2 separate regions of the Homo sapiens genome follow, and region 2 is reported to be linked to region 1. The links are microRNA targets in miRTarBase. Many come from high-throughput screens and were not tested one by one. Region 1 holds a microRNA gene; the other region holds the end of a gene's coding sequence.
What was found. Region 1 holds the annotated microRNA hsa-miR-6792-5p (GUAAGCAGGGGCUCUGGGUGA, at 1,994-2,014, opposite strand). A microRNA usually pairs through its seed, bases 2 to 8, with sites in the 3' UTR of a target mRNA and lowers its output. Matches are read on the target gene's strand: a 7mer-m8 pairs with bases 2 to 8, a 7mer-A1 pairs with bases 2 to 7 and ends in A, and an 8mer does both.

Region 2: the mRNA of ISL2 is a reported target of hsa-miR-6792-5p. The part of its 3' UTR that is shown has no 7-base or 8-base seed match.

Annotation. Positions count from the first base shown.
Region 1 is chr19:7,616,062-7,619,452 of GRCh38, reverse strand. It overlaps MIR6792 (microRNA 6792), which reads right to left and starts at 2,014; the gene lies at 1,948-2,014. CAMSAP3 (calmodulin regulated spectrin associated protein family member 3) reads right to left here. Exons shown (of 17, transcript NM_020902.2): 14 at 2,831-2,930; 15 at 2,015-2,127; 16 at 1,792-1,910; 17 at 1,149-1,701. The coding sequence ends at 1,396.
Region 2 is chr15:76,341,502-76,344,870 of GRCh38, forward strand. It overlaps ISL2 (ISL LIM homeobox 2), which reads left to right. Exons shown (of 6, transcript NM_145805.3): 6 at 218-974. The coding sequence ends at 334. LOC124903532 reads right to left here and starts at 1,923. Exons shown (of 1, transcript XM_047433420.1): 1 at 892-1,923. The coding sequence starts at 1,923. The coding sequence ends at 1,279.

The DNA of each region.
Region 1 (3,391 bases):
GATTGGCTGCTGTGGGAGGTGGGGCGGCTGGGCCCCAGGCCAGATACTGCCCGGCCTCACCCCGCAGAGCCAGTTCTGGACTCGAGAGGCCAGTCCCTCCGCTGCCTGGGGCCTTGGAGTGGGTCCTGCCCGGAAACTTCCTTGAGCCTCTGTAGCCTGGGAAGGGCAATCCAGCCCCTGGCTGCCCAGGTCTCGCCAGCCCCTGCCTCTCAGAGCCCTTCTGTGGCCCCAGGCAGCTGCCGCCTCCCTGGGGTGGCACCCACTGTCTGTTCCCCACTAGGGACTGGCCCTTGCCCTCAAGTCTTGGAGTCAGGCAGGCTCTGGCCCAGCTCTGGGAACTGATTAGTAACGCGTTTCTGTGCCTGGACGGGGGCCAGGCGCCAGACCTTGTGCACGGCCCAGGACCAGGGCGTGGTCCTTAGTCCTAAGCCTGGGAAGCCATTAGCGGGCTGTAGGCTATTAAGGGGTTTTAAGTATCAAGGGATATAATCAGATTTGTGCTTCGAACGGGTCACACAGGCTGCTGTGTGGGCAGGAGGCAGCTGGGGACATGGGGAGGCCCAGGCCATTGGCTTGGACTTTGCAGGGAGGTGACAGGGCTGGAGAGAAGCGAGTGAGACAGGAGGGGAGGGCTGAGCTGTGTAGAACTGGGCGGCAGCTGGGAAGCCAGTGCCAGCCTGGGTTGCAGGGCAGGCCTTGCATCTGAGAGAGACACCCAGGCAATGGCAGGGGGCAACTGGATTGTCAAACACAGATCTCAGAGAAACCTGGAATCACTGGCCCAGAGGTAGATGCCAGGCCTGGAAACACCAGGCTGGCCAGGGGAGACAAGATCAAGTTAGAAGTTGGCCCCATGCCAAACGCTGGTTAGGGCCAGTAACAACAGCCACACAGACCAGGAGAATCCAGCAAGCGGGGGTGGCCAAGGCCACAGGAAGGGCCAGTGGGACACCTCGAGCCTGAGAGATCAGTTCAGAGGCAGCTTCGAAACAGCCCTGGCTGGGGGCTGGGAGTGCCCTGGCTGAAGCTGCATTAGGGGATTATGGGGGTTGAAGACAGGAGTTGGTTTGAGAAAGAACAGGAGACTAAAAACACAGCCAGGGAGTGTGGGACCCCGGCCAGCCTCGGAGGGGGGGACAAGGTTCAACTTCTCTTTAAATTATTTTATTCAAGAAGTGGGGGAGGACAGACAAGGGGACTGAGCTGAGCCCTGAGTCCCTGAACCTCCCAGCTCAGCCCCCACAGCAGGACTGGACTCAAAGTCAGAGGGTGGAGACTCCAGCCCCACCCAGACACGGTTGGGGACAGACAGGACCCAGGAATACCGACTGACTGTCCTCCAGGGGATGGCGGCCGCAGCACACAGGGCCCGGCCCGTGGACCGCCCGGGTGGGGCTATTTGGGGGTGCCGCCGCCCTTCTTGGGAGTGGTGGGTTTCTTGCCCTGCCAGAGGTGTCCCTGGATGGTGAAGGCATCGACGCTCATGGACATGGTCTTGGCGGGGATCTGGGTGAAGCGCTTGCGGTCCGAGTTGTACTTGTAGATGCCTTCCACCATGGCGGGCGTGACGGTCCGGGGCCCATACCCTGCCAGCCGCGACAGCTCCTCTGTCTCCCCCGACAGCGTGTAGAGCGCCCGGAACTGGCAGCTCGAGTCGCGAAAGAGGATCAGGAAGTGGTTGGCCTTGCTTTTCTCAATTTCCTGGGCAGGAGTGCTGGAAATGGTCAGCTGGCCAAGTCAGGCCACCCACCCACCCACCAGCCCCCAACTCCCACGTGTGGGCGGGCTCACCTCCAGAATGCGATTCTTCTGCGGTTCGTTCACCTTGCCCGCCAGGCAGCAGTGTGATAGGGCATTGTGGATGATGAACTTGTTGGACTTGGCGCTGGGTTCTTTGTACAGCCGTGGACCTAGAGGGTGAGGCAGTGGGAGGGGGTGGGGGGCAGCAGGAATGAGCAGGGGCTGTGGAGGAGGGTGCCTGTTGCTCCTCACATCACCCAGAGCCCCTGCTTACCTGTGTACTCGGGCACTGACGCTGGGGAGGAGGCATTGCTGCCATTTTCCCAGTCCCGTTCGCGGCTTCCAGGCAGGCGGCTTGGGGACATGAGACCTGACGGGGAGGGAGCCCTGCAGTGGGAGAAGGATGGGATGGAGGTGGGGTCAGGATGGGATGGAGGTGGGGTCAGAGATGGGAAGCTTCCCTATGTGCAGAGGGGCCAAGGAAAATAAGGGCCACGGCTGGGCATCGTGGCTCATGCCTGTAATCCCAGCACTTCGGGAGGCCAAAGCGGGCAGATCACTTGAGGTCGGGAGTTCGAGGCCAGCCTGGCCAACATGGTGAAACACCGTCTCTACAGGCACGGGTAACCCCAGCTACTCAGGAGGCTGAGGCACGAGAATCACTTGCACCCAGGGGGCGGAGGTTGCCGTGAGCCAAGATTGCGCCACTGCACTCCAGCCTGGGCGACACAGCAAGACTCCCTCTCAAAAAAACAAAAAAAAAAAAAAAAAAAAAAAAGGCGGGCCACACACACTGCAGAGGAGGCGGTATACACTGCACACCCTCCCAAGTCCATGCAGTGCCCCGTGCTGTCCTCCTCCCACAGGAACACCTGGCACTCAAGTGCACTGAGGCACATGCTTGAGTCCTGTCTGCCAGGTACAGACTATGCCCCATGCACACGTGCCCACACGCGTCCCTCCATCTCTTCATGGCGTATCCATAAACTCGAGCCATACCGCCCTCTAGGTTCACCCAGATGCCCACACACCTCCCAGGCTCTGGGAAGCCACCCGGCATACGAACCCCGCCTGTGCGGGCTAAACTCACCGAGACGTGGGCCTCTTCACCCCGAGGTTATTGTGGGCCTCGTTGGCCACAGTGGACAGTGACAGGGTGGACTGGGAATAGATTTTGCTCAGCCGAGAGCCTGGGGACAGAGATTGCAGGTCAGTGCCCACCAGAAGCCCCTGCCCTCCACAACACCCGGTCCAGCAGGCTGTGGGGGGAACACAGGAGGAGTCAGTCCTGCCCAAGACCCCTCGGCCCTCTGCAGCACCCCTATGGGGGGACCCCTCTATGAGGGAGGATGCTTTGCCCAGCAGGCAAGTGGGGAGCAGCACTGGGTCAGCCCCTACTGGCAACGCCTCACCCCAAACATACTCCCAAAGGTTCCTATCCATGAAGCCACAGAAGAAAGACCCCTCATCCCACTGCACCCCACATCCCTATGGAAGTCTTTTTTTTTTTTTTTTGTCTTATTTCTGAGACGGAGTCTCGCTCTGTTGCCCAGGCTGGAGTACAGTGGTGCAATCTTGGCTCACCGCAACCTCCACCTCCCAGGCTCAAGCGATTCTCCTGCCTCAGTCTCCCAAGTAGCTGGGACTACAG
Region 2 (3,369 bases), not on the chromosome of region 1:
AAAGTGCTCACAAGAGAGGTCGCAGGATTAACCAACCCGCTCCCCCGCCCTAATCCCCCCCTCGTGCGCCTGGGGACCTGGCCTCCTTCTCCGCAGGGCTTGCTCTCAGCTGGCGGCCGGTCCCCAAGGGACACTTTCCGACTCGGAGCACGCGGCCCTGGAGCACCAGCTCGCGTGCCTCTTCACCTGCCTCTTCCCGGTGTTTCCGCCGCCCCAGGTCTCCTTCTCCGAGTCCGGCTCCCTAGGCAACTCCTCCGGCAGCGACGTGACCTCCCTGTCCTCGCAGCTCCCGGACACCCCCAACAGTATGGTGCCGAGTCCCGTGGAGACGTGAGGGGGACCCCTCCCTGCCAGCCCGCGGACCTCGCATGCTCCCTGCATGAGACTCACCCATGCTCAGGCCATTCCAGTTCCGAAAGCTCTCTCGCCTTCGTAATTATTCTATTGTTATTTATGAGAGAGTACCGAGAGACACGGTCTGGACAGCCCAAGGCGCCAGGATGCAACCTGCTTTCACCAGACTGCAGACCCCTGCTCCGAGGACTCTTAGTTTTTCAAAACCAGAATCTGGGACTTACCAGGGTTAGCTCTGCCCTCTCCTCTCCTCTCTACGTGGCCGCCGCTCTGTCTCTCCACGCCCCACCTGTGTCCCCATCTCGGCCGGCCCGGAGCTCGCCCACGCGGACCCCCGCCCTGCCCCAGCTCAGCGCTCCCTGGCGGCTTCGCCCGGGCTCCTAGCGGGGAAAAGGAAGGGGATAACTCAGAGGAACAGACACTCAAACTCCCAAAGCGCATGATTGCTGGGAAACAGTAGAAACCAGACTTGCCTTGAAAGTGTTTAAGTTATTCGACGGAGGACAGAGTATGTGAGCCTTTGCCGAACAAACAAACGTAAGTTATTGTTATTTATTGTGAGAACAGCCAGTTCATAGTGGGACTTGTATTTTGATCTTAATAAAAAATAATAACCCGGGGCGACGCCACTCCTCTGTGCTGTTGGCGCGGCGGGAGGGCCGGCGGAGGCCAGTTCAGGGGTCAGGCTGGCGTCGGCTGCCGGGGCTCCGCGTGCTGCGGGCGGGGCGGGCCCGGTGGGGATTGGGCGCGGCCGAGGGGGTGGGGCTGGGCGCATGCGCGCTGAGGGCCCTCCCAGAAGCAGGAGCGCCCCATTGGCGACCCCTGGGCACCTGGCGGCCCAGGCCCGCGGGCAGGAGGCGGGACCCGTTTGGGCGGGAAACCTGCGGCACTTGTGGCGGTTGAGCGGCGGACTCCGGCCTAGGGTTATGCGGGCGAGGGCGCGCCCCGCTCCCGGAACCAGCCTTGGCCTGGCGCCTGCCGAGCCCCGAGCCCCACTCTCGCTCGGCGCCGCGGGCCCTCCCGGCGCTTCCTTCCCCAGCGGTCCGCGGCCCTGGGTGAGGCTCGAAGCCCCGCGCGCTGCCCCTGGCCCTGCAGCACAGCAGTGAGGCCAACCCCGGCCAGAGCGGGCGGCCGTGACGGGCCGTGCCCCGCGCTGTCCCCGGAGTGGATGCGCGACGTGATCAATCCGCGGCATTTATTAATTCCACAGTCTAGACAGAGGCGGGGGCCGGGCGGCGGCTGCTTATCTGCGTTTGGCATCACCTGCAAGCGATACACCGAGGGGCCGCAACGAGCCCCCGCTAGGAGCGCGGCTGCCGGGAAAATAAGTCCACCCAGAACCAGTCTGGCGTGTCCTTGGTTTATTTTCTTTCCAGACCGAAGTGGAGGGGGTCGGGGGTGGCCCGGGTGGGAGGGAGCTGGGAATGGCCCCTGGATATGCCGTGCCCAGGTCACTTGGTGTGACATTTCAAACCCCTGCGACTTGTTTTCTTGAAAACTGGCTTTAGTGATCGCAGGAAATAACCGAGAGATACTGAATCTCCAGTAGGCCTCCGGGCAACCGCGCATACACAAAAACAAAAAACCCCAAAAGAAAGAAAGAAAAAAAACCCACGGAGGCTCAGGTTTTACTCTTTACAAATATTTAACCCTTTGGCAGCCTGGGACAGTTCTTTTCCAAGACCAGCCTTCACTTAGTGGACTGAGGGAGCTTCCCGACTACCAGTTAGTCCACCGCTGTTGTAAGAACATCTGGCGTTGAGTTGTCGTTTCCCTGTCCCTCGAGTTAAGCGACCCACAAGCATATCCTTCTTTGTCCAAGGTTTGTTTTGAAAGTGGGCAACGCCCTAACTGGGTAGGGGATAGTTGCCATCTTAGCTTAGGTAGGGGCTGGCAAGGAAAACGTGTCTGGGGGGCCCTGTAGTCTTCAGATAGAAAAGTAGGTGCCTTCTGTTAGCCATGGCTGCTTGGATGGCCAAAGGCCACTGTGGGTTTTTCAGCAGCGCTTTTAGCAGAATTCCTTCACACTGCCCCCACCCCACTTGCAGATGATGGAAGGCTTGCTGGCAATTACTGAAAGAAAATGGGAGGTGGGAAAATGGAGCTGCATTTATATTTTACTTCCTGAATGTCAAGGTGATGCTGGCACAAATATTAAAGGGAACATTCCCCTTCTTTGGGATATAGGAAATGCTGCTGCAAACTTAGAGATAAGGGAAGAGATATGCAGAGTTAATGAGGACCAGCTTTACCTCTCAAGTGCCCAGAAATGGCTTTAATAATCAGGTCTGGGTTCTTTGAGGCTTCCTTTCTTTAACTTAGACCATTCCTTCCCAACAGAAATACAGATTTCTCCTTTTACCTTCTGGCTGGCCATTAGATAGGGGGCTAAAACTTCGAATAAATCTCACTGTCAAAAACTTTTGATTTATCCAGAATATTTGGGTTTTCTCATTTTTTTTAAAAAGGAAATAACAGGTTATTGAATAAAGAATTTCATTAATGGTTAATTAGCTCTGAATTTTTGCTTTTGACAGATTGCAGCGTTTTAACGCTATGAATGGAAACGTCTACATTAGTTATCTCAACATCTAATTAGTTATCTCTTTCCTCATCATCCATGAATCAAAAATCAAATTCCTCTTTTTGTTATTTATATGATTGTGTCTGTCTTTTTTGAATATTGGGAAGTTACCTAGATAAAAGTGGTTATTGTGTGTTAAGATTCCTGCATCTCTCTGTATCACTGTACAAAACATTACAAGCTTTTCTCTTCCATAGTTGCTACCCACCCAAAGGGGTGCATCGTTTTCTATGTGGGTTTCCAGGGAAAGGATTCAACTCTGAAGCCTTATTACAGTGGTCCCTAGTGAGGTGTCACATCTACGCTTGGTTAGTTACATTAATAAATATCAGTTTTACGGGTTCCCAAGTCATCTTTAAACATCTTTTGTAATACAGTAGGGATTTCCCCATAAATTAAATTACCTGTAACAATGACAAGTGTTGTATTTT